7 linked regions of the Homo sapiens genome follow. The protein of the gene in region 2 interacts with the protein of the main gene of each other region in a biochemical or structural test. Each region holds a gene or a part of one and is shown on either strand. Other genes may lie near its edges.

Region 1 (3,500 bases), on a different chromosome or scaffold from region 2:
TCAGTAGAGGACAAGTGTTTTTACTTTTCCTGAACTATTGCCCAGAGATAGCTCAGTAAGACTATTTTAAAATAACTCCTTTAACATTCCATCTCTATTATCTTGAATGTTCTTAAAATAAGATTTTAAAAATTCTATAATTGTGACACATAAATTGTGGACTTGATGAATACCTATGTAGACTGATGGGAAATGAATGTTTTAAGGCATAAAGCTTTATTCGCTCATGCTTTTATGATATTTACTCATGTCTATTTATTTTACTTCAGCTGCTGATAAATGTTAATATTTATCTGGCCATTTGTCTGTATTGGTCTACAAGGCTGGCATGAATTGAAACTATTCTCTTCTCAGCTTCACAATTGATTGCTAACGTTATTCAAAGTGATTTAATCTACTTCCATCCCAAGGCCTTCCTAAATTAAAACTCTCTGACCTTTTGGTACCCTCAAATTCAGTTTAACAATGTATTTAACATTTTCTACATAATAATGATCTAATTTGCTAACATCATGCTTTTTTAATACGATATTATAATGTTGTATAAATACTGTATTACAGGGAAGCTTTTCCAATTACTTGCGTATAGAGAAAGGTGCATTTTGTTTAACTGTTAGTTTGTTTTCATTTTGTTTAGTTTTGTTTTGCCAAATGCAGTTGAAAGCAAAGGTAGGAGTAAGTATTTTGAGCATTGGTCGGAAATTGCACTACCACATAAATTCTAAGGTAAATTCCTTTGAGTAGAATCCAAGTAGAAGCTCACGCCCTTCAGCTGACGTGCCTGCATGAGTCATAACTGTCTTTTAAGGAAGGAGGAAAGGGGCAAAGATAATTATGCTGCTTCCAAAATTAAAAAAAATACAAATATAAAAAATGAAGGCATTTCCTACAGCTGTTCTGTGAATAATACCTCTAAAAACATTTACAGTTTAAATTAGAGTTTCAGAAAGAAGTTATTTAACTCTTAAACTGACATTGCTTCTTCTCAGAAACCCAAATTTGCACAGACAACTGGGAAGATCAAAATCAAAGAGCTGTGGTGTACAGCTCTAGGCTCCTTAGCTGAGAGATAAAGGAACAGTTTGACTTCAGATATCCTAAAAAGAAAATGCTCCAAGAAACAGATCCAAATAGAAGAAAGGGAGACATCTCAGATTATAAATACTCCATGACTTAATGATTCATTGCAGCACGGAAAGGATTTCTCTTTACGCAAGAGTACTGGGCTGGGTCCACTTATTACGAAACACATGCTCACTGGGGCTTAAAAAACAGCTTCTATTTCATTCCTTTCAAGAAAGCACAGCCTCTAAAAGGACTAGTTGAGTTATCTGTAAGTTAAGATTGATCTGAAGGTGCTGGATATGTTTATGTGACTTCATAATGTCTAGACCAAAACTTAGTCAATAAGACATTGAAATGCTTTGTCACATTCTAGCAAACTCATTATAAGAGATACCCAGATTCCAAGTACTTACAGATAAACGGGATCCATGTAGTTTTTTAAAAATAAAAGCTGAATTTAGGATGGATTCAGGTTTCATAATCTTGTGTAAGAGTTTCTTTGTGCTTTTAAAAAAGTTTATTTGGTATCTCTTTAAGTAATAATATGAACATGTTGCCACCTTCTGTTTTCAAATATGTTGCAACTGACATTTAGAAGAAAATATTTTGACTATATCACATATTAGACATCACAAAAGTGTCAGGAAGTTCTTTGGCAGATGTAACATAGTCTGATTTAAGTGTCTGGAATGATTTTTCTGTGTGCAGACCATCCAGTGGAATAAGTGAGGCTTTGATATCTGAAAATGAAAACAAAAACCTCGAGCATCTCACACATGGGGGTTATGTGGAAAGTACCACCCTGCAGATTCGACCGGCCACAAAGACCCAGTGCACAGAATTCTTCCTCGCCCCTGTCAAGACTGAAGTTCCCCTAGCTGAGAACCAAAGAAGTGGTCCCGACTGTGCAGGCAGCTTGAAAGAAGAAACAGGCCCGAGCTACCAAAGGGCTCCCCAAATGCCTGACTCCCAAAGAGGACGCGTGGCAGAAGAGCTGATCTTAAGGGAGAAGGTAGAAGCGGTACAGCCTGGGCCTGTGGTTGAGCTGCAACTGTCCCTTTCACAGGAGAGACATAAGGGCGCTAGTGGCCCTTTAGTGGCTCTCCCGGGAGCTGAAAAATCTAAGTCTCCTGACCCAGACCCTAACTTGTCACATGACAGGATTGTCCACATAAATTCGATCCCTACTAATGAGAAAGCAGACCCTTTCCTGAGGTCCAGCAAGATAATCCAGATCTCCAGTGGCAGAGAGTTGAGAGTGATCCAGGAAAGTGAAGCAGGAGATGCGGGACTGCCCCGGGTGGAAGTGATCCTCGACTGCTCTGACAGGCAGAAGACAGAAGGGTGCAGGCTTCAGGCAGGAAAGGAGTGTGTGGATTCTCCAGTGGAAGGAGGGCAGTCAGAAGCACCTCCTTCTCTGGTATCCTTTGCCGTCTCATCAGAAGGCACAGAGCAGGGAGAAGATCCACGCTCGGAAAAAGATCACAGCAGACCTCACAAGCACCGAGCGCGGCATGCACGTAAGTTCTGCCTGGGCTTTCAGAAGGGGCTTGGGAGTTGGGGGCATTTTGCTGCTTCTTTGCTTGCATGAGTTTTTCAGCAAGATTTTTCTTATGTTTCTCATTGGCTTAAAGAAATATTTAATTAATGCACAAAATCACAAATGTGAAATTGTGGAGAATACCAATTTCTAAATAGGAAGCAATAAGTCCGAACTTCATATAGATTTAAACATTTTTCATGAATTTCTTTTTATCCCCAAAGGCACAGGAACTGTTAAAGAAAATAATATTGTCAATGTGCCTGTTCATTTTGTTTCAGACAGTTGAAATAGTTCATGTTAAAATAGCATAAGAAAGCACTTGAAGTCATGTGGACTCAGTTTAAATGTCAAAAACTGTTGAGTCTGCTACTGAGAGGTGTCTTTAAAATAAAAGCTCTACCATTGATATCAAAAGCAGATCCTTGTTTTGAAAAAAAATCATTGTGCAGCTTGATGATGCTTGCAGAAGTGAGTTTGACAGACAAGGACATGTGTATACTGAGCAGTTACATGATCCTCTCCGTTGTGTAAGTCTTCATTTGACTGCAAAGTGTTTCATCTACCTTCTAGACACAGAAGTCAGTCTCCAGGGCCATGTGGAGGCATTTAAATGTCTCCAAACATAAAATATATTTAAATTCAGTGCTTTGTATGGCATTTTGTTTTACCCAGGGGAGAGAAGACAGAAAGGAGAATTGGGATAAGAATTGCAGTTAGGTGTTAGGATTTCTATTGTTTTATTTCACGTTTATTTTTGTTTGTTTTTTTTTTTTTTTTTACTAATTTTGGAATTTTATTTGAGGATGTAAAGGCTGACAGGCAAAGGCACTTGACTGTATATATGATACACAATGGCAATGAATTCGGTTATTCAAAGTAGGATATTAAGTCT
Region 2 (3,500 bases):
CTCTAAAATTGAATCATAGTGCTCCCAGGGTGTATTGTTCTTCTGTAAAGATACTTCTACATATTTATAACTCAAAATACCAATTAGCATCTCACCCTTTCCTCCAAGAAAGTCACTTACTCTGATGTAGAACTCTGAATTGTGTGAACCATACAATACCAAACACCTGGGGAGAAAAATTTACTGTTGATTGCTCTGAGAAAATTGCCTCTCCTGTAGAATAAGATCATGGTAAATTCTGTCCAAAAAAAAAAAAAAAGATTTTATGAATAGAGTCTGATCCCAGCAGACAATAGAATGCAGAAGGTGTTCTTTAGCCACACCTAGAAGATCTTGGGCTTAAAATTAAAGTCAGGCATCTGTAATACCTACCAATTTCAAAACTACCATCAATAACTCCCACCAGTGAAGAAGGGATATCAAACCTTCTCTCTATCTGAGTGATGGTGCTCTTCAGATAGCCTTCTGCCAATGCTTTGGCAAAGTAAACAAAAGACAAGGCACACAAGAACACCTGGAAAATATGACAGGTCACACTTAGTCTGACTCCAGCTTGACACACAATTGGAAACTAAGTAAATAGACAAACAAATACAAAACAAACAACAAAGAACAATGTATAATATCAACTTTATTATCACTGAAACTTTAATTCAAACACTGTTCGAGGTTTCCATCAGCCTTAAGCACTGTAAGTTTTCAACAGTTCAAATTCTCTTGGAATTTAAAATATATATTTGGTTTTTATGCGAAATGTGTATTGAATTATCTTTTGTCTTCTTCCACTCTGCTCCAGAGGGGCACTCAAAGGAGTCTTACATTGAAGAGTCAGTGTATGGTGAGACATTCATTGGTAAGAAAGTAAATGAAACCATAAGCCAAACACTTGACATCCTATAACAAGTCCAGCACTTGGGATTATGTATTTCACAGGGTGGTGCATGCACCAGCCGGGAACATAATGTACAGACTGAAAAAGTGCAACTATTATTCCTTGTGTTTATGTTTATACTTATTAAATTCATAGTCAAATATTTTTCTCAATGGAAAACATGTCTTTGATATCTAGCTTATATATTTTGATAGACATGGGTCTGTGATAGAACATTCATAGGGAAGGTTAGCATTTATATGAAAAAAGCAGAGATTTGTTGAGTGAATATTTGTATAAAGAAAGAATAGGAGCACACAAAGCATCCCTTAAGAAACAACTATTCTCGGGGGATTGGGGGAGCGGGGAGGGACAGCATTAGGAGATATACCTAATGTAAATGACGAGTTAACGGGTGCAGCACACCAACATGGCACATGTATACGTATGTAACAAACCTGCACGTGTGCACATGTACCCTAGAACTTAAAGTATAATAATTAAAAAATAATTAAAAAAAAGAAACTTCTATCACTAAATAGCAAAGAAAAATAGCATGATTTTAACAATGGGCAAATAATCTAAATAGACATTACTTAAAAGAAGGCATGGCCAACAGGTATATGAAAAAGGTGCTCAACATCACTAGTCATTATGGAGATGCAAATAAAAATCTTTATGACATATCACTTCACATCTGTTGGCTATAACAAAAAATAAAAACTGGTTAGAATGTAAAGAAAAGGGAATCTTTGTACATGGTTAGTGGTTACATAAGTTGATGTAGTCTCTTTGGAAAATATAATAGTATGGAGGTTCCTCAAAAAACTAAAAACTATTGTTTGATACAACAATCCTAAAAAAAAAAAAAAGCAACTCTTCTCCCTACTCTGTAACATTATTCCCATTTTTATTTGCAAAATGGGAGTAATGTGATGTTTCACAAATTAAATGTTATATCTGTGCTTGGCTTAATATCTGGCACATGGCAGAAGTTCAATAAATACTAGTTTCTACTATTTCTCTCTTTTCTGTTTGGGGGGGCATTTAAATGAGCCCAGGAAAGTAATTTAACCCACATGGTCAGGTAGAGATTGCTTGCACCGCCTGGCAAGGTGTGGTTTTAGTAAATTGCATCTAAGATCTTTTTTTTTTTTTAAAGGAGAAAACAATTCTCATTCTAACTTCATTATATAGATGATATCTGGACAGAAAACTAAGAGCATCAACACTATTTACTTCTTGGTTGCTCTACCTTTAGTTCACCACAGCATGGTTGCTTTTCTTCTGAGGAGGGATATTCTGTTTTAAAAGAAGGCCTTCCAACAGGTTGCACTGAAGTTTTGCAGAACAACTGGATATTTTCTTTGGATGAAGTGTCCATTATAAACACATTCCTTGACTCTGATCTGTCAAAGTTAGTTTTTAAAGTAAAAATAAATAAATACTACGCAATTTATTAAATTTTTTTATTCAACAGTATACCACAATTCTATAGACGCAATTTAAAGTGAATCTACCTTTTGTTGTCACAGTAAGTTGGCAAATGTTTTCAATTAAAATCAACCAGGATATCTGATTAACTAATCCTGCTATTGGAACTCTGTAGCCAGCATTCTTTCTCAATCTGCCCAGTTTAAGCCTCATTATGGCAAAGAATAAATTTAAGTGTTGCCTTTGGAATAAATAATGAGGCAGAATTTTGCTAACTTTGTGGTCTTGCCAGTTTAAACTAGGAGCAAGCAGGAAAGGAAGAAGAGGAATTCAACTATTTGAATATTGATTCATTAGGATAAAGTCTTTAAAGCCTTTAAATCTATCTTCTTAGCAAAACAAATAGAAGTTTTACATTCATTATAGGTCCCTGTACCACCTTATGATTCCTGTAGCACCCAATGTGAGCCTTAAAATATGACAAAAAAGAAGAGGTCCAATTTGTGTATTGTTTTTGTTTGATAAATAAGGGAGCAACATGATTTGTGCCTTAGATTTAATTCAGGTGAAAGAACAGTCTTTGATCAGCCTTAAAGTAAAAAAGACAGCCTTGCTTCCCATGCTCAATTTCCCACCGCCCCTCACAGGACAGGATCACACACTGAACCTATTTTCTCCCTGTTCACATCAATATTTACATATCCTGTGCCCCTACTTCTTTAGGATTCCACATGGCTCAGTGCCTGCCTGATAATCTAACCTAAATCAAGGAATTCAACAAACAAAGTATTTCTCAATCTCCCTAATATTATCAGATGACCCAATTGTACATTAATAGAGGACTTCTATATCCACATAATAGGAGTGGAATAATGTTATTCCTAAAGGAATAATGTTAGGAGTCAAATTTCATGTATTGTGGCAGAAATCTATTCTGACTGAGTATATCACCTTGACTTTATGCAATGCTTGTTTTGTGTTCACTAAACCTCATCCCTCACCATTTCAATTCATACTTTCTCAAACTGAAAAATCAAGTAATAGTATAAACGATTTGCTTTGTATTAATAATATGAAGTTAAAACATCAGAGGACTTCAACAATTTAAAAATTAAGTGGATTCCTCTAGGGAGTGGGAATTGACTAAAGGAAAGGATGAGACAAGGGTCTGGTTTCAAAAAAATTATTATTAGGC
Region 3 (3,500 bases), on a different chromosome or scaffold from region 2:
CCACCAGCAAGCTCTCCTTTCCTCCCACACTACATCACTGCTTATTTATGATCTCCTTTAATTATTGTTTGCTCCCCTGGCGAGGATGTCGACCCTACAAGGGCAGAAATATTTGTCTGTCTGGTTCACTGTTGTATCCCAGAGTCTAGAGCAGCCTAGCAGACACCTGCAGCACATGCCACAAAAGACGGCAGAATACTCATTCTTCTCAAGGGCACGTGGAACATTCTCCAGGAGAGGCCTCATGCCCGGCTATAAAACAGCCTCATTAAACATCAGCAGGACTGAAATTATACAAATAATGTTCTCCAACCACAATAGAATGAAATTCGAAATTTATTTTACAAATGCACAAATATGTGGAAATTAAACAGACATCTAAATAGCCAATGGGTCAGAGAATAAACCACGGGGAAATTGGAAAACACTTTGAAACGAGTGAAAAAGAAGACAAAACACATCAAAACTTATGGAATACAACTAAAGCAGTACTTAAAGGAAATTCAGATCTGTAAATGTCTATGTTAAAAAGAAGAAAAATCTCAAATCAATAACCAAAACCTTCCACCTTGTGAGAGTCAGAAAAAGAACGGGAAACTGAAACTGAGCTAGCAGAAGGAAGGAAATAATAAAGGTTAGGGCTGAAGTTAATGAAATCTAAGCTAGAAAAGCAATAAAGAAAATCAATGAAACTACAAGTTGGTTATTTGAAAAGATCAACGAAATTTACAAACCTGAGCTGAAATGATCAAGAAAAGAAGGGAAGACTCAAATTACCAAACTCAGGAATGAAAGAAGGGACATTATTACCAACTTACAGAATTAAAAGGAGTCAGGCCGGGCGTGGTGGCTGATGCCTGTAATCCCAGAACTTTGGGAGGCTGAGGCGGGCGGATCACGAGGTCAGGAGATCAAGACCATCCTGGCTAGCACGGTGAAACCCCGTCTCTACTAAAAATACAAAAAAATTAGTTGGGCCTGGTGGTGGGCGCCTGTAGTGCCAGCTACTCGGGAGGCTGAGTCAAGAGAATGGTGTAAGCCCGGGAGGCGGAGCTTGCAGTGAGCTGAGATCACGCCACTGCACTCCAGCCTAGGCAACAGAGCAAGACTCTGTCTCAAAAAAATAATAACAATAATAATAATGAGACGGTGCTACAAACAACTACATAGCAACCACATTAGAGAAACTCACATGAAGTGGACACATTTCTGGTGGGACACAAACTAACAAACTTGACTCAAGAAGAAACAGAAAATCTAAAAAGACCTATGACAAGCAGAGATCCAATCAATAATTTTAAAAGTTTTCACAAAGAAAAGCCTAGGCCCAGATGGCTTTATTGGTGAATTCTACCAAACATTTAAAGAAGAATGAAGGCCAATTTTGCATAAACTTTTCAGAAAAAAATGGAAGACAATGCTTCCCAAGTCATCTTATGAGGCCAGTATTACTCTGATACCAAAACCAGACTTCAAAAGAAAACTATAGGCTTCCTTGGGCAGCCAGACACCTACAAAGTCCTCTCCACTCTCCTGTCTACACTTGCAAGCCTGCCTCACTCTATAAATTGGCCAGGCTGCTCTCTCAGAGTCTCCTAAACTGCCTTAGGCTCTGCCAGCCTCCTTGACCCCACAGCCTGGAAGGTGCCTCTGCATGCTCCCACCATCCTAGACCCCACAATCAGAGGGCCTGCCCCTGGGGTCGGAACCAGCTGGTGGCTGTCTGAAGCCCCTGACTAAACTCCACAGACATATCCTGAACGACAAGAAAAGGTACATGCATCATTCAAAGCACCCTTTGGACCACATGGCACAGCCAGCTTTCAAACGGGACCCATGCACTGACAAGGCGGATCACACGCTCCTCCCAGAGGCTCTCAGCGTGCAGCCCCGGGAACCAGCCTATTCGAGAGATCTATGAAGTCAAACCATTCTCATCATAACACTGAGATGGGAGCTGCTTTTTCAAGCTCATCCTCTCCCAAGTGCACAACGGAAGCTACAAAACTTGTGATATTGCAACAAGCTGACTGCAGGAGCAGATACGGGAACCCAGCTGTCTTCCATTAAACCTCACAGCAAAAAGACCACAAAAATGTTAAACAATGCCACTCTTCTCACCAAGTGTTTTTTTGTTGTTGTTGAGATGGACTGTCACTCTGTTGCCCAGGCTAGAGTGCAGTGGGGCAATCTTGGCTCACTGCAACCTCCGCCTGCCGGGTTCAAGTGATCTCTTGTGCCTTAGCCTTCTGAGTAGCTGGGACTACAAGTGTGCCCCACTGTGCCTGGCTAATTTTTGTATTTTTAGTGGAGATGGGGTTTCACCATTTTGGCCAGGCTGGTCTCGAACTCCTGACCTCAAGTGATCCACCCGTCTCGGCCTCCCAAAGTGCTGGGGTTACAGGTGTGAGCCACTGCACTATTTTTTTTCCTCACTCTGTCACCCAGGCTAGAGTACAGTGGCGTGATCACGGCTCACTGCAACATCGACCTCTCAGGCTCAGGTAATCCTCCCACCTCAGCTTCCTGAGTAGCTGGGACCACAGGTGCGTGCCACTACACCTGGCTAATTTTTTATTTTTTGTAGAGATGGGGTCTCATTATATTGCCTAGGCTGGTCTCAAATTCCTGGCCTCAAGCAATCCTCCTGCCTCAGCCTCCCAAAGTGCTGGGATTACAGGCCTGAGCCACCTCGACCGGCCTCACCAAGTGTTTTTCTTATTTTGAAAATAGTTGTTATCCATAAAAACACATTATTTATACCAACATGTCATGAGTTTATTACTATTTTTAAATGCATTAATAATTAGATATTTGTAAATTCTAATAGCGTAAATAACAATAGATTCGTGCTCATACATAAAAAGCTTCTGGGTCCTTCAAAATGCTAAGAGAGCAAAAAAGATTCCTTAAGCTAGAAGTCTGACAACCACTGTGCTACCTCATCTGCTTTACCTGAAAGTGAACAGAAAAATAAACTGGTGTGCCACCCAGGAGGCAATCTGGAGGCCGGGGAAGCGACCGGTGCCTTCTTCTGCACGGTGGAGTGGGCAGCCGCCAGGTGTGGATCCCAGCTGGGCCACACGACCTTCGGCAAGTTCAGCCACTGGAGCTGAATGACCCTCGAGGGAGGGAAAGTCCAGAACCAAGACGAGGGGCAGTAGCGACGCCATCGGGTCAGTATCTTCCCCTGCCAAAGTCCCCTGGTCCATGCTTGGGGCCACTGTAGGACCTTGAAATGCAGACAGGAGCAAGGCGTGGTCCCTTTCCTGGGGGACCTGTCCACCTCGTGAGGAGGGGTCAGACAGGAGCCCGGCTGGCCCAGGGGCAAATGCCTCTAGTTTGCAGGCCCCTGTACGGGAAGAGGGGAGTGGAGCAGATTCTTCAAATCCCAGGGACATTTGTGCGGGGTGGCAGGAAAAACATGGACAGGAACGGCTGAGCCCTATGCTCTCAGGGGTACAAATGAGGCCACAGAAGCATCCCCCTCCACTCCCCAG
Region 4 (4,034 bases), on a different chromosome or scaffold from region 2:
TATTTATAGGGCAGTTAAGTAAAAATATGTTCTTAGTAGAACTAAAAATATGTTTTCTACCTCTTCTTCCTCTTCCTAATAAAGATTAGTCATCCTTCATCCATGTTAATGGCTTAAAGCAATAATAGAAATGATTAATGACTAATCTAACAAATATTTAATTTGACTTAGGAGTAAACTATCAATTTTTGGCAACAAATTTACCACTCGACTTATTTAATACTATGGCTAACTTTTAAAAATAACTTCTATTGCTTGTTTCCATCTCTGATCATTCCCTTAGGATAGGTTCCTAGAAGAGGAATTACCAGGCCAAAGGGTTTGCATAGATTAAAAGCTCTTGGTACATATTAGCATAGTCTAATATCAAAACCAGAGTGACTACATCAACTTCAGGTAACCAAGAAAACTCCATGGGGAGTAAATGTTGCTATAAATAACACCCTAAAAAGAAAATCTAATAATCTATTATAAATAGATCTTAGGCTTTGTAAGCCAGAGTAAACTTTTATTTAGGATGGCATTCAGACTAATTAGTGCATTTGTGCATATAAACATAAACAGGCACAAATGATGCACAAAGAAAATGAAAAGTGGAAGAGCCCATAAATTCTGAAAGAGATAAAAAGAAATCATGAAATGATGTTCTCCTTATAAAAGGGGAAAATTTATTTTATACTTTCCACACTTTCTTACCTAACTCTATATACTAACAGTAAGTTTTCTGTTGTAATGATCAGGTTTAAGATTAGAAGAAAAACTGATATTTTAAATAAAGATCAACAAATTGGTTTTTAATATAATTAGATTAACTGTCTCTGCAAATTAGCATTCTGCACAGTACTTTGTTCACAGATCTTCAGAAAGAGTAATTATGTAAGAAATGACTCAGATTCTTCAAAAGACAAAGAACTTTGTTACCAAAAAAGTTTCATGAAAGCCAAATTTAAAGCTATTAAAAATCAAATCTTAAAAACATACTTTTTTGACAATCTTTGTTACAAGGAAGTATATAATAATTCTATAAACCACCAGTTACCAGGATATTCTCAAATACCTGTATATTTGCAGAGAATGTGGCCCCTGGAAGTCAAGTATATTGATTTTGAGAAGTCAACCATAACGCAGCCTGTACATTTTACATCACTTGAGACATTTTTCTTTCCTTCTTGCCACAGCCAAGAAGTGAATTTTATCTGTCATGATTATAAGCAGAAAGTTGACAGATTTCAGAACACTAAGCAGGAAGTTTGGCACCTGAAATATTTTCCTTCAGACCAAGGGGGCATGGAATTGGTTGTTGGAAGGAGAAGGATTTGGATGAGATCACAAAAACTAAAGCTCCTGGTTCTTTGAATGATGCTCTCCCAGGAATCTGGGTGGAAAGAAGCCAAGGCTCAAATTCTTTGTCTTTTCAGCAATGAATAGGAAAAATTCAACTTTTGAGTGTTATCTCAGCAGTTACTTTCACTCAGTTTTGCCCCTTCGGCCCTAAAATGAATGAGACGTTTTCAAAGCAGATGGCAGTGAGTCAAGCAGAAACGTGGAATATAAGTACATCCCCACTTCCACGAAGTCCCGAAGCTTGATTACAGCACTCTCATGGGCCATGTAAACAGGGGACCAGAAACTGAGCAGAAGACAGATTTAAGCCGGGGCGGGGGGCGGGGGGGAGGGAATTGTAAGACTAGGACAGGGTGAGCGCCACATGTGGCTTTAATATCCAACAGCTGCTAGAGATCATCACCCCGCTGCTCTCTCTGTACCCCTACACCAGAATCCTCTGTCTCAAAGACCATAACTAAAGCGGCCACTGCCATGTTATCTGAGTAACGAACTCAAGCTCGAGCACATTCAAGGATTTTTTTTAACTTAGTGTACCTGGATGTAGCCGACTGGACCTTTAATCACAAAACCAAAGCTTTAAAACAAAGTCTCCAGGAAAGAACAAGAAGGAAAATCAATTACACAGTGCACTTGAGCAGACTGGGGAGGCGGGTAAAAGAAAAGTGAGGGAAGATAGGGCAGCCGGGATTCCCTGGACTGGAGCTCTCTTCTCTAGAGCTAACTTTTCAGACCTGGAGGTCTCCAAGGCCCCCGCAACTCAGTGAGTCTCGGGGCACCAACAAATCCCCGCGGGGGTCACCGCGCCCGCGAACGCAGAGTCCACACGTGGATTCCCGCGCCTGTGATGCCCCGACCCGTCCCGGGTCCCCGCACAGACAATGCCGCGCGTCCTTCCCGCAGCCACTCCGGGACCCGCGCCCCGCGCCGCCCGGACGTCCCCCTGCGTCTGCCGGGGACACTCACCGACACCAGGAACTCCAGCGTGCCCACATAGTCCCGCTCGGTCTTCTGGAGCTCGCTGAGCACGCACACGCGCAGGCGAAGCTGCTTCTCCAGGTCCTTGGCGCTCTCGGCGCGGCTGTCTCCGCGGCTGTCCTCGCTCATGGTCGGCGGCGGTGCGCAGCGCGGCGCTGCCCGCCGTGCTGAGCGCTGACCCGCGCGCCCGCTGCTGCCCGGCCCCCGGCGGCGAGAATGGAAAGTTGCCGCCTCCGCCAACTCCGAGGAGAGACAGAAGACTTTACATGCTGGGGAGAGGCTGGGCGCAGGGAGAGGAGGGGATCGGGCTGAAATCCCGGCGCGGGGGGCGCGGGGCTCTGCAGAGGAAACTCCTGGGAGTGGGGGCTCCGGCCAGGCCCTGCGCGCCCGGCCCCGCTGCTCTGGCCTCACACGGCCGGGGCTGGAGGGGAAGCGGCTTCGGCAGCCACAGCAGTGACTTGGACATTAATCAAAAGCTTTGTATCCATGTGACTCCGACCCTTTACCCTTCGCCAAATCTCAGGAAAAAGGAAACACAACCCTGGGGAAGTACTGCGTACTGGCTAATCACACACACGCGCGCGCGCGCACACACACACACACACGCACACACACACACACACACACACACAGCAGCACTTGATATGGAACTCACAGGAGGTTCCCAATCCCAGGGACACACACTCCAAGGCGCAGCTCGAGGGTTACTCCTAAGCCTCCGCTATTGTTTAACTTTAATGTGTTTCGTACAAATCCTGAAAGCAAAGAAACAAGTCCCCACGGTTACATAACTGGATGGGAACAAAAACAACCACGGTATTGACCCTCCCTCTTTGAAAAGAAACACATTGATTTTTTGTTTCATTCAGGCACAAAACAGGTTTGCTTTTAAAACCCTCCAACTGAGAATAGTTCACAGGGCAGACACCCTCCAGTCTGAGCTTGGAAAGTCAATTAGCATAATAAATGAAGACACTATGGGAAAATGACAGCCTCTGCCCATGCAATAAACCCCAGATAAAATAAGCATCACCCTTGTACTGTGCTGTTTTCCATGTCTACAACTTTTTTCAACATCAAGATAGTATGTAAATCCATTGAGAGGCGAGGGTATTTGTGCCAGTTTTGTTTCTAAGAGCTGCTGTGATTTAAGACGGTGTCACTAATTGAAAAGATAAAGCTGTTGTTGAATGCTCATCAGAAGATAGAAAGCTAGATAGATAACGGAAATAATCTTAGATTTTTGAAGATAGACACACAGAACATTCTTGATTTTAAAGTTAAAGTTTATTGCCTTTTCTCACTTGGAAACTAAGCCTTAAATATTTCCAATACATTTAACAAACAAAACAATTTATATATTTTTTTGAATTGGTATTATACACATATATTTTCCACAGATCAACTTCAGTCTAAAACTAATGGCATTTAAATAAACTGAAGAGTGAATAGAGTTGTTGCAAGAAAGTGGTATGTTAATTTGTTGCAGTCACTGAAAGCATTAGCAAAACTCTAAAACATAAAGATGCTTTTCACTATATTTACATTAAAATAATTACCTATTGGTTTTCCAGATGATGTCTTTCCAGAGCATAGTGTGACCATTCCCCTCTGTAACCACACAAAGAAGGATTGTACTTTCTTTGTATATTAAAGATAAAATTTTCGAATGATGTACACAAAGCTGATGGGCAAGATGTGATTTTCCTCTT
Region 5 (3,500 bases), on a different chromosome or scaffold from region 2:
GGGCAAGGGAGTGCCACCCCCATCCTGGAGCCAGCAGTGCCCCAGTTCCTTGGAGACTGCCACGGACAACCTTCCTCCTAAGGTGGGTGCACCCCTGCCTCCAGCTCGGAGTGACAGTTACGCAGCATTTCGGCACCGTGAGCGGCCCAGCTCCTGGTCTAGCCTTGATCAGAAACGGCTCTGCCGGCCTCAGGCAAACTCTTTAGGCTCCCTGAAGTCTCCATTCATAGAGGAGCAGCTGCATACTGTGCTGGAGAAGAGTCCAGAGAACAGCCCCCCAGTGAAGCCCAAGCATAACTATACCCAGAAGGCCCAACCTGGCCAACCTCTGCTGCCGACCAGCATCTACCCGGTACCTTCCCTGGAGCCACACTTTGCCCAGGTGCCTCAGCCTTCTGTGAGTAGCAACGGTATGCTCTACCCTGCACTGGCCAAGGAGAGTGGATACATAGCCCCTCAGGGAGCATGCAACAAGATGGCTACCATTGATGAGAATGGGAACCAGAATGGATCTGGCAGGCCTGGGTTTGCCTTCTGCCAGCCCTTAGAACATGACTTGCTGTCCCCAGTGGAGAAGAAACCAGAAGCTACAGCCAAGTATGTCCCCTCCAAAGTCCATTTCTGTTCAGTGCCTGAAAATGAGGAGGATGCCTCCCTGAAGAGACATCTCACACCTCCCCAAGGCAACAGCCCACATTCCAATGAGAGAAAGAGCACCCACAGTAACAAACCATCTTCTCATCCCCACAGCCTCAAATGCCCTCAGGCTCAGGCCTGGCAAGCGGGTGAAGACAAGAGATCTTCCAGGCTCTCAGAGCCCTGGGAGGGCGATTTCCAGGAAGACCACAATGCCAACCTCTGGAGGAGGCTGGAGAGAGAAGGCCTAGGCCAGAGCCTGTCAGGCAACTTTGGCAAGACCAAGTCAGCCTTCTCATCTCTCCAGAACATTCCTGAGAGTCTGAGAAGACACAGCAGCCTGGAGCTAGGCCGGGGAACCCAGGAGGGTTACCCCGGGGGCAGGCCCACCTGTGCAGTCAACACCAAGGCAGAAGACCCTGGGAGGAAAGCCGCTCCTGACCTCGGGAGCCATCTGGACCGGCAGGTTTCCTACCCGCGGCCCGAGGGGAGGACCGGTGCCTCGGCTTCTTTCAACAGCACAGACCCAAGTCCCGAAGAGCCGCCTGCCCCCTCGCACCCGCACACATCCAGTCTGGGCCGGAGGGGGCCCGGCCCAGGCAGCGCCTCGGCTCTTCAGGGCTTTCAGTACGGGAAGCCCCACTGCTCGGTGCTGGAGAAGGTCTCCAAATTCGAGCAGCGAGAGCAAGGGAGCCAGAGACCGAGTGTGGGCGGCTCTGGTTTTGGCCATAACTATAGGCCCCACAGGACCGTCTCAACTTCCAGTACTTCTGGGAATGACTTCGAGGAGACAAAAGCACACATTCGTTTCTCTGAGTCAGCTGAACCCCTAGGCAACGGGGAGCAGCACTTCAAAAACGGGGAGCTGAAGTTGGAAGAGGCTTCCCGGCAGCCCTGCGGTCAGCAGCTGAGCGGAGGAGCGTCGGACAGCGGCCGTGGCCCCCAGAGGCCGGACGCTCGGCTCCTCCGTAGCCAGAGCACCTTCCAGCTCTCCAGCGAGCCAGAGAGGGAGCCCGAGTGGCGGGACAGGCCCGGCTCGCCCGAATCGCCCCTGCTGGATGCCCCCTTCAGCCGCGCCTACCGGAACAGCATCAAGGACGCACAGTCCCGTGTCTTGGGGGCCACCTCCTTTCGACGTCGAGACCTGGAGCTGGGGGCGCCCGTGGCGTCGAGGTCCTGGCGGCCACGGCCTTCCTCGGCCCACGTGGGGCTGCGGAGCCCCGAGGCGTCGGCCTCCGCCTCCCCGCACACGCCCCGGGAGCGGCACAGCGTGACCCCTGCTGAGGGCGACCTGGCCAGGCCCGTGCCCCCTGCCGCCCGGAGAGGTGCTCGCCGGCGCCTGACTCCCGAGCAGAAGAAGCGCTCCTACTCGGAGCCCGAGAAGATGAACGAGGTGGGGATCGTGGAGGAGGCCGAACCGGCACCCCTGGGCCCGCAGAGAAATGGGATGCGTTTCCCGGAGAGCAGCGTGGCCGACCGGCGCCGTCTCTTCGAGCGCGATGGCAAGGCCTGCTCCACGCTCAGCCTGTCGGGGCCCGAGCTGAAGCAGTTCCAGCAGAGCGCCCTGGCGGACTACATCCAGCGCAAGACCGGCAAGCGGCCTACCTCCGCCGCCGGCTGCAGCCTCCAGGAGCCCGGGCCACTGCGTGAGCGCGCCCAGAGTGCCTACCTCCAGCCCGGCCCCGCGGCGCTCGAAGGCTCCGGCCTCGCCTCGGCCTCCAGCTTGAGCTCACTGCGGGAGCCCAGCCTGCAGCCCCGCAGGGAGGCCACGCTCCTGCCGGCCACAGTTGCAGAAACCCAGCAGGCTCCCCGAGATCGCAGCAGCTCCTTCGCCGGTGGCCGCCGCCTCGGGGAACGGCGACGCGGGGACCTGCTTAGCGGAGCAAACGGTGGAACAAGGGGCACCCAGAGAGGGGATGAGACCCCCAGGGAGCCATCCTCCTGGGGGGCCAGGGCCGGGAAGTCCATGTCGGCCGAGGACCTGCTGGAACGCTCGGACGTCCTTGCGGGCCCTGTCCATGTGAGGTCCAGGTCATCTCCCGCCACCGCAGACAAGCGCCAGGTACGTGCAACCAGCAAGTCCTGGCCTCGAACTGTCCCTTCCTCCCTAGAAGCTTTAGTGGGGCTCCCCAACCCCCCACACTCTCACCCGCTCTCCCAGTTCAGTTTTCCTTGTGATTACAGAAAAGTAGCATTTGTTTTCATGAGTTGAGTTTCTCAAGTGTCCCTTACCTGGTTTCCTTATAAAGATATAGGTATCTAGATTACGTATGTTGTTATACAGATTCTCTATCTATCTGTCTACCTCCATTTTAGGAAGTCACCACCTCTCAATGGAAAAATGCAAGGTTAAGAAAAATTAGGGATTATCTTTTTTGTTTTTTGCTTTTTTTTTTTTAATGGATTAGAGTCTGGGTCTGAGTATTTTAAAAGTTTTAGCTTTGCACCCTTTCTGTTTCTATTGGACTTTGCATCTACAAAATAGCTAGAATGATTGACATTGATAGTCATTGGTTATTGAATTCCTGGCCCTCAGCTAAGTGTGTGGCAGGTCCTGAGCTAAGTGTAATCTACATTTATTATTTCATTTAACCCTCATGATAATCCTGTGCAGCAGAGTATATTATACATGTCAGACCCCTGTCTCTCGGACTCCCACCTCAGCTCTTTCTGTGCATTATCCTGGTGAGGAGAGAAAATAAGAAACTCAAAATCTCACATAAAAGGATTTTCTAATAAAGGCACCAAATGCTGCAAGGATTATAAAGTACTTTCCCCTGAAAATTTTAAGCAGTGCTGGGAATAGAAGCTGAGCATTCTGACTCCTAGGAGCCTGTTAATTTCCCTAATTCTTAGCCTATCCT
Region 6 (3,500 bases), on a different chromosome or scaffold from region 2:
TGTAATCCCAGCTACTTGGGAGGCTGAGGCAGGATAACTGCTTGCACCTGGGAGGCAGAGGTTGCAGTGAGATGAAATCACGCCACTGCACTCCAGCCTGGGTGACAAGAGCGAGACACTGTCTCAAAAAAAAAAAAAAAAAAAAAAAAAAGAATTGGTAAAACTGGACAGGCAGGGAGGAAGAGGCAGAAGGACTGAACTGGGCAAGAAGGACCAACCAAAGGAGCAAAGGCAGAGAGGCCTTTCAGGAGCCGTGACATGGTTTGGTTGGCATTTGGGATGAAGATAAAGATTATGTTCATCAAAGTTAAAGGCTATACTCAGCAAAAGTCACAGTCAACGCTATCAAAGATACAATTCAAAGGACACCTCTGAATTGACAGGATACAAACAATTTTGGTCATCAAGACTGGCAAATGCCCCAGGTGTGGTGGGTCATGCTTACAATCCCAGCACTCTGGGAGGCTAAGGCAGGAGGCAGGAGGATCACTTGAGGCCAGGCGCTAGAGAACAGCCTGGGTAACATGGCAAGATCTCATTTCTATAAAAATAAAAAATGTATCTGGGCATGGTGGTGTGTGCCTATAGTCCCAGCTACTCAGGAGGCTGGGGTGGGAGGATCACTTGCGTCCAGGAGTTCAAGGCTGCAGTGAGCTATGATCATGCCACTGCACTCTAGCCTGGGTGACAGAGCAATGTCTAAACAATTTTAAAAAGAGAGATTTAGAGATTCTTTTTTTTGTTTGTTTTGAGATGGAATCTCCTTCTGTCACCCAGGCTGGGGTGCAGTGGCGTGATCTCGGTTCATTGCAACCTCACCCTCCTGGGCTCAAGCAATTCTTCTGCCTCAGCCTGCTGAGTAGCTGGGATTACAGATGTACACCACCACGCCCGGCTAATTTTTTTGCATTTTTAGTAGAGACAGGGTTTCACCACGTTGGCCAGGTTGGTCTTGAACTCCTGACTGCAAGGGATCCATCCACCTCGGCCTCCCAAAGTGTGGGGATTATAGGCGTGAGCCATTGCACATGGCTTCTTTTTTTTTTTGGAGACAGAGTCTCGCTCTGTCTCCCAGGCTGGTGCAGTGGCGTGATCTTGGCTCACTGCAACCTCTGCCTCCCAGGTTGAAGCAATTCTCCCGCCTCAACCTCCTGAGTAGCTGGGATTACAGGAGCGTGCCACCACACTAGGCCAATTTATGTATTTTTAGTAGAGACAGGGTTTCACCATGTTGGTCAGGCTGGTCTCAAACTCCTGACCTTGTGATCTGCCCGCCTTGGCCTCCCAAAGTGCTGGGATTATAGGCATGAGCCACCGTGCCCGGCCTCCTTTTTTTTTTTTTTTTTTTTTTTTTTTTGAGATAGAATCTTGCTGTGTCACCTAGACTGGAGTGCACTGGCGCAATCTCAGCTGACTGCAACCTCTGCCTCCCGGGTTCAAGCAATTCTCATGCCTTAGCCTCCTGAGTAGCTGGGATTACAGGCGGGCACCACCACACCCAGCTAATTTTTTGTATTTTTTAGTAGAGACGGGGTTTTGCCATCTTGCCCAGGCTGGTCTTGAACTCCTGAGCTCAGGCAACCCACTTGCCTCGGTCTCCCAAAGTGCTGGGATTACAGGTGTGAGGCACGGCACCTGGCCTGAGATTTTTTTTTTTTTTTGAGATAAGAGTCTCACTCTGTCATGCAGGCTGGAGGGCAATGGCGCAACCTCGGCTCCCTGCAACCTCCACCTCCCAAATGATTCTTATGCCTCAGCCTCCCGAGTAGCTGGGATTACAGGTGTTTACCACCACACTCAGGTAATTCTTGTAGTTTTAGTAGAGACAGGGATTTCACTATGTTGGCCAGGCTGGTCTCAAACTCCTGACCTCACGTGATCTGCCCACCTTGGGCTCCCAAAGTGCTTGGCCCCTGAGATTTCTTTTTTCTTTTTTTTTTTTTTGAGACAGAGTCTCTCTGTCGGCCAGGCTGCACTGCAGTGGCATGATCTCGGCTCACTGCAACCTCCGTCTCCTGGGCTCAAGCAATTCTCCTGCCTCAGCCTCCCGAGTAGCTGGGATTACAGGCATGTGCCACCAGGCCTGGCTGATTTTTTGTATTTTTAGTAGAGACAGGGTTTCACCATGTTGGCCAGGCTGGTCTCAAACTCCTGACCTCAGGTAATCCACCCGCCTCGGCCTCCCAAAGTACTGGGATTACAGGCATGAGCCACCGCGACCGGCCTGAGATTTCTTAAATGTTCTGTTTTGGATTGTTTCCCCTGGAGAAGGAAAGAATGGAAAGCAAATGTGACTGTGTGTGATTCTGTGTGTGTGTGTCAAACTTAATGTATTTAGGTCTAGATATTGAGCTTGTTTTAGTTTAAAAAAAATTTTTTTTTTGAGACGGAGTTTCACTCTTGTCACCCAGGCTGGAGTGTAATGGCGTGATCTTAGCTCACCACAACCTCTGCCTCCTGGGTTCAAGCAATTCTCCTGCCTCAGCCTCCCAAGTAGCTGGGATTAAGGCCTGCGCCACCACGCCTGGCTAATTTTTTGTATTTTTAGTAGAGATGGGGTTTCTCCATGTTGGTCAGGCTGGTCTCGAACTCCCGACCTCAGGTGATCCACCCGCCTCGGCCTCCTAAAATGCTGGGATTACAGGCATGAGCCACTACACCCGGCCATAGTTTAAAATGTATAATTAATACCAGATTCTTCTGAATGAGACTGTGACCTGGTCATGTAAATGCTGTGCCAAATCGAACCAATTAAACAGTTTTTCTCTAAACATTGAGTACATCACACCACAGTGATGCAATGATGATTAAGTGCCTGACACCCCTTACCCTTTTAGGAGTAATGAACCAAAGGGAGATAGGGGAAATAAGCCTTTCATTCTGATTTAACAGCTATGTGTGTGTGTATGAGAAGTGGCTTTTTTTTTTTTTTCAGTATAAATTCCCCATTTAGTAAGAGGAGTGGCCCTTTTCTGACGGGATAGCATCTGGGACTTATTAATGGAGCTGTTGCAGGTGGCTCATTATGTCTTGGTTCACTTAGAATGCTTTTGGATGGCTATGTGTCCACTATGCACTCCAATTTATAGATAAGTCAGTAAAAAATTCAGTATGTTGGCTGGGCGCGGTGGCTCACGCCTGTAATCCCAGCACTTTGGGAGGCCAAGGCGGGTGGATCACAAGGTCAGGAGTTCGACACCAGCCTGGCCAATATGGTGAAACCCTGTCTCTACTAAAAATACAAAAATTAGCCGGGAGTGGTGGCAGACGCCTGTAGTCCCAGCTACTCGGGAGGCTGAGGCAGGAGAATTCCTTGAACCTGGGAGGCAGAGGTTGTAGTGAGCAGAGATCAAGATCGGGCCACTGTACTCCAGCCTGGCAGACAGAGCAATACTTTGTCTCAAAAAAAAAAAAAAAAAAAAAAAAAAAAAAATTCAGTATGTTGATTTTGTTTAACAGGGTTGTTACCAGAAATAGAAAAAGACACACAATAGCAGCAC
Region 7 (3,500 bases), on a different chromosome or scaffold from region 2:
GCCCGGGGCTTACCTGACAGGGTGGAGCTGCTGATGGTGCTGGCTGGGGTGGTGACCTCAGGCTCCTCCTGGGCACACTCTTCAGGAGGAAGGGCTGGCTTTCCTGGCTCCTCATGGGGGTCTCCAGGGCAGGAGGCAGCTTCATCTTGCTCTCCCTCTGTTGAAATAGCCAGTTTGGGAAGTAGGCCAGAACTGAGTTTATGTCTGTTGCTTTCAGTATCTGAAGAGTTGGATGTTGATAGCTGTTGCCTTAATTAAAAGCAAAAACAAAGTCATATATACATACTAGAAAACTGTGTTAAAGGTGAATTTTGGAAGAAACCAGGTGAAAATCGGACTTGGATAAGCCTAACCAAGAGATGTCTAGTGCAATGGTTCTTAATGTGTGGTACCCACAGCAGCAACATCTGCATAATCTAGATACTTGTCAGAAATGCACATTTTCAGGCCCTACCCTAGATCTACTGGATGAGAAACTCTGGAAGTGGGAGATCTGTGTTTTAACAAGCCCCCCAGGTATTCTGATGCTCACTAAAGTTTAAGAAACTCTGCTCTAGTAGCTACTGCTTATATTACTTAAGAGGCATTTCACATACATTTCAGAATATTCTGAACTCCAGCTCAGTGTTTCTGTGGATGGCAAGGTGGTGCTTTTGGTTTTGTCCACAGAGTCTTCCTTCTCTTCTGCTGAATTCTGAGTGATTCGATCTATACTGCTGAAAACCTGGAAGGCAAATAATTGGTGCTTATTAATATCTACTAAAAAGAGTTTGTCAGAAAAACACTCCAAGTCTTGGGAGAAAAACCTGAGAGGATAACTAAATTCTGAACTAATATTGTGTATTCAGAAAGTACTTTCCAGTGTTGTTAACCAGAATCCAGAGAGGAAGGGTCAGGGTGAGTGAGTGTGTGTGTGTGTGTGTGTGTGTGTGTGTACATATATACGAATAGGGAGCTATGAATTCATCATCCTCTCATCATATCTTGTTGCGGACTTTGTATCTGCAAACAAAATCCACAGATGCAGTGGAGTTTCTAGGCCTTGGGATCAATGCACATCTTGATTACTTTTTAACCATGAAGTCAACTGGAAAAAGAAAATAACAGAGAAACAGATTTAATGGCCACCAGTCAGGGGTGGGAAGAAGAAAAATGAATTGGAATTGAGTGCAAACAGAAGAATAAATTATCTGTTTCAAGACTGGGTGGTGGTGTGGCAAGGATGCAGTACATATTCCGTTATAAGAGCCAGAGGTATTTGTTTCGCTTACAAATCACATCTATAGACAGGCAGTTTCCTATGTTGGTGCCGGGGTTCCTGAAGGGGATCGGAGCTCAGGTAAGCCCAAGGTCTCAGCTATCTGTGAATCTCTGTTGTCTCATAAGAGAGAAGGTAAAATGGGGGTCTAAGAGCCTAGGGCAGGAAGCGCTCCCTACTGCCCTGCTCAGACACTTGCTGCTCTCATGGGAATGGTCCTCAGGCCTCCTATAATCTACTAGGAATAGCAGGAAAGTGGCTACAGAAAAGGAGATGGTGGGAAAATGAAATACCCACCAAGGCAAAGAAGGAAGCAGTGTTTAGGGGTTGGCATTGTTGTCTTTGATGGCCCAGAGAACAGTCCTGGTCTGAGTCCACACTTAGCAAAGCTTCTGTCCTGGCTCTAGGACAGACTGGCTACCACCTTCTCCAGGGAAATCCTTACCTCGATGCCATTCCCATACACAGGAGGGTAGTGCTGGCCAATTTGCAGGTGCATCTAGGTAATCATTTAGAAAAAGCTACGGAGCACTTTAAAATCACTAAATGTTATAGAAAAGCTAAACAATAATCATGCAAAATGCCATGGCAACAGAAAATATATAGCTACTGAAAATAGCAAAAGGGAGGTAGGGTGCCCTCAGGTTGATTTCCGTTTTTCCTAGGGCCTTGTTCTGTCTCAGTACTATCAGTTTTCTTTGTTTTGATTAATTGTTTTTTTTAACTTTTACTGTACTGGTAAAAAGGCATCTTTCTCAAGCATCAATTATCTAAATGATTCTAGCTTGGCTTCCTACTGCCTTTTCAATATGGCTTATAATTTCTGTTTATTGGTTACAAGACTTTTTTTTTTTTTTGGCTTTTTTTTTCCTTTTTGTGGAGAACGGGGTCTCACTATATTGCCCGGGCTGGTCTTGAACTGCTGGGCTTACGCTATCTTCTTGCCTCTGCCTCTCTAAGTGCTGAGATTAGAGGCGTGAGCCACTATGCCTGGCAGTTATGAGACTTTACAATCCTACAGTCAACTGTCCGCAGGTATCTTTGCTTATGTCAAGGACTGAGCCTTCTCCTTTTGTTGTACTCTGTGTAATCCCTCGGAGATGACTCTGTACACAGTGAAGCTCGCGCTCTTCATCCTGAGTTGAAAGCAATGAGTGATACCTCTGCAGCCTGGCATTGAGCCAGGTGAGAGACGTTCAAGGCAAGGTCATCATATAAGTAGCAGTCACACACTCCAAAAACAAGACTGTGGGTGCAAGGCTATGCCTCTAAGAAAACAATATCTTAATTTGTGGAGAGAGAAATATATTGGTGCCGGGGTTCCTGAAGGGGATCAGAGCTCAGGTAAGCCCAAGGTCTCAGCTATCTGAATCTCTGTTGTCTCACAGGAAAGAGAGAAGGTAAAATGGCAGTCTAAAGGCCTAGGGGATAGGGACAGACTATAAGTTGAGGAGGTCACTTTTCTTCAACAAAAGGAAGTTTAAGCATAGGAGACCTCAAACCCTGGAAAACGGTAAGTGTCCAGCTGTTCGGGGATACTATCTGGCCAGCGGGAGATCCTCCCAGAGAGACTCTGTATGTTTATGCCACATTTCACTTACTTTTGAAAACCTGTGTGAACATGAAGAAAACTGCCTTATTTCCACATTAAAGTCTTCATCATTTGTGTCATCTTCTTCCTCCGTTTCCATATGATGATACTTCTCAGACCGAGCTGCAGTGAAATGTTTGGGAACAGGTCCAATTACTCAGATTTTCAACATTTAGATATTTTAATTATGATTTTCTGGATCAACATTATGTTTAAGAACTCAGAGATATGAAAAGGTTCAAAAGCAAAGATAATTATTTATCGAGTAAAGGCCAAACAATGTTTTATGTCAGATAAAGCACATACTATCAAAATAACTTGTGTCATCCTCAGATTCCAGTTGGGGAATAAATTCTGCCTTCTGTCTCAGCAAACTGTTCCAGTCTAAAGAACGGAAGAATCGATGCTGTTTGACTTCATATGCACCACCTGGAAGGGGGCAGGTAGAGACAGAGAGGAAAGTGTTAAACTATCCCCACTAAGCAAAGGCAAACATCAGTTTTTAACAACAATTTTGAGAACATATCAGCAAAGAAATACAGACATGAAAATCATACTTTTTCATTCTACAACCAAAGCCCCACAAGTTTTTCTGATAATTTATCAGTAGGAGATTTGATGTTGCTAACAGCAGTTGCTATGGCACTGTTT

The links.
Region 1: the proteins of SLCO1C1 (region 2) and SYNPO2 interact in a test that uses a peptide from one of them, tested with the Homo sapiens proteins (one large-scale study listed by IntAct).
Region 3: the proteins of SLCO1C1 (region 2) and SHANK2 interact in a test that uses a peptide from one of them, tested with the Homo sapiens proteins (one large-scale study listed by IntAct).
Region 4: the proteins of SLCO1C1 (region 2) and PREX2 interact in a test that uses a peptide from one of them, tested with the Homo sapiens proteins (one large-scale study listed by IntAct).
Region 5: the proteins of SLCO1C1 (region 2) and SHROOM3 interact in a test that uses a peptide from one of them, tested with the Homo sapiens proteins (one large-scale study listed by IntAct).
Region 6: the proteins of SLCO1C1 (region 2) and SNTB2 interact in a test that uses a peptide from one of them, tested with the Homo sapiens proteins (one large-scale study listed by IntAct).
Region 7: the proteins of SLCO1C1 (region 2) and MAST4 interact in a test that uses a peptide from one of them, tested with the Homo sapiens proteins (one large-scale study listed by IntAct).

What each region holds. Positions count from the first base shown.
Region 1 is NC_000004.12:119,024,854-119,028,353, forward strand, and holds part of SYNPO2 (synaptopodin-2), read left to right. Parts: intron 1-1,773; coding exon 1,774-2,585; intron 2,586-3,500. UniProt on the Homo sapiens protein: Has an actin-binding and actin-bundling activity. Can induce the formation of F-actin networks in an isoform-specific manner.
Region 2 is NC_000012.12:20,698,332-20,701,831, reverse strand, and holds part of SLCO1C1 (solute carrier organic anion transporter family member 1C1), read right to left. Parts: intron 2,281-3,500; 5' UTR 2,256-2,280; coding exon 2,127-2,255; intron 515-2,126; coding exon 373-514; intron 1-372. UniProt on the Homo sapiens protein: Mediates the Na(+)-independent high affinity transport of organic anions such as the thyroid hormones L-thyroxine (T4), L-thyroxine sulfate (T4S), and 3,3',5'-triiodo-L-thyronine (reverse T3, rT3) at the plasma membrane.
Region 3 is NC_000011.10:71,242,578-71,246,077, forward strand, and holds part of SHANK2 (SH3 and multiple ankyrin repeat domains protein 2), read right to left. Parts: intron 952-3,500; exon of another isoform or gene 819-951; intron 1-818. UniProt on the Homo sapiens protein: Seems to be an adapter protein in the postsynaptic density (PSD) of excitatory synapses that interconnects receptors of the postsynaptic membrane including NMDA-type and metabotropic glutamate receptors, and the actin-based cytoskeleton.
Region 4 is NC_000008.11:67,950,812-67,954,845, reverse strand, and holds the start of PREX2 (phosphatidylinositol 3,4,5-trisphosphate-dependent Rac exchanger 2 protein), read right to left. Parts: upstream 2,801-4,034; 5' UTR 2,452-2,800; coding exon 2,311-2,451; intron 1-2,310. UniProt on the Homo sapiens protein: Functions as a RAC1 guanine nucleotide exchange factor (GEF), activating Rac proteins by exchanging bound GDP for free GTP.
Region 5 is NC_000004.12:76,739,229-76,742,728, forward strand, and holds part of SHROOM3 (protein Shroom3), read left to right. Parts: coding exon 1-2,698; intron 2,699-3,500. UniProt on the Homo sapiens protein: Controls cell shape changes in the neuroepithelium during neural tube closure. Induces apical constriction in epithelial cells by promoting the apical accumulation of F-actin and myosin II, and probably by bundling stress fibers.
Region 6 is NC_000016.10:69,295,164-69,298,663, reverse strand, and holds part of SNTB2 (beta-2-syntrophin), read right to left. Parts: intron 1-3,500. UniProt on the Homo sapiens protein: Adapter protein that binds to and probably organizes the subcellular localization of a variety of membrane proteins. May link various receptors to the actin cytoskeleton and the dystrophin glycoprotein complex.
Region 7 is NC_000005.10:67,141,893-67,145,392, reverse strand, and holds part of MAST4 (microtubule-associated serine/threonine-protein kinase 4), read right to left. Parts: intron 3,279-3,500; coding exon 3,156-3,278; intron 2,973-3,155; coding exon 2,860-2,972; intron 725-2,859; coding exon 597-724; intron 250-596; coding exon 14-249; intron 1-13.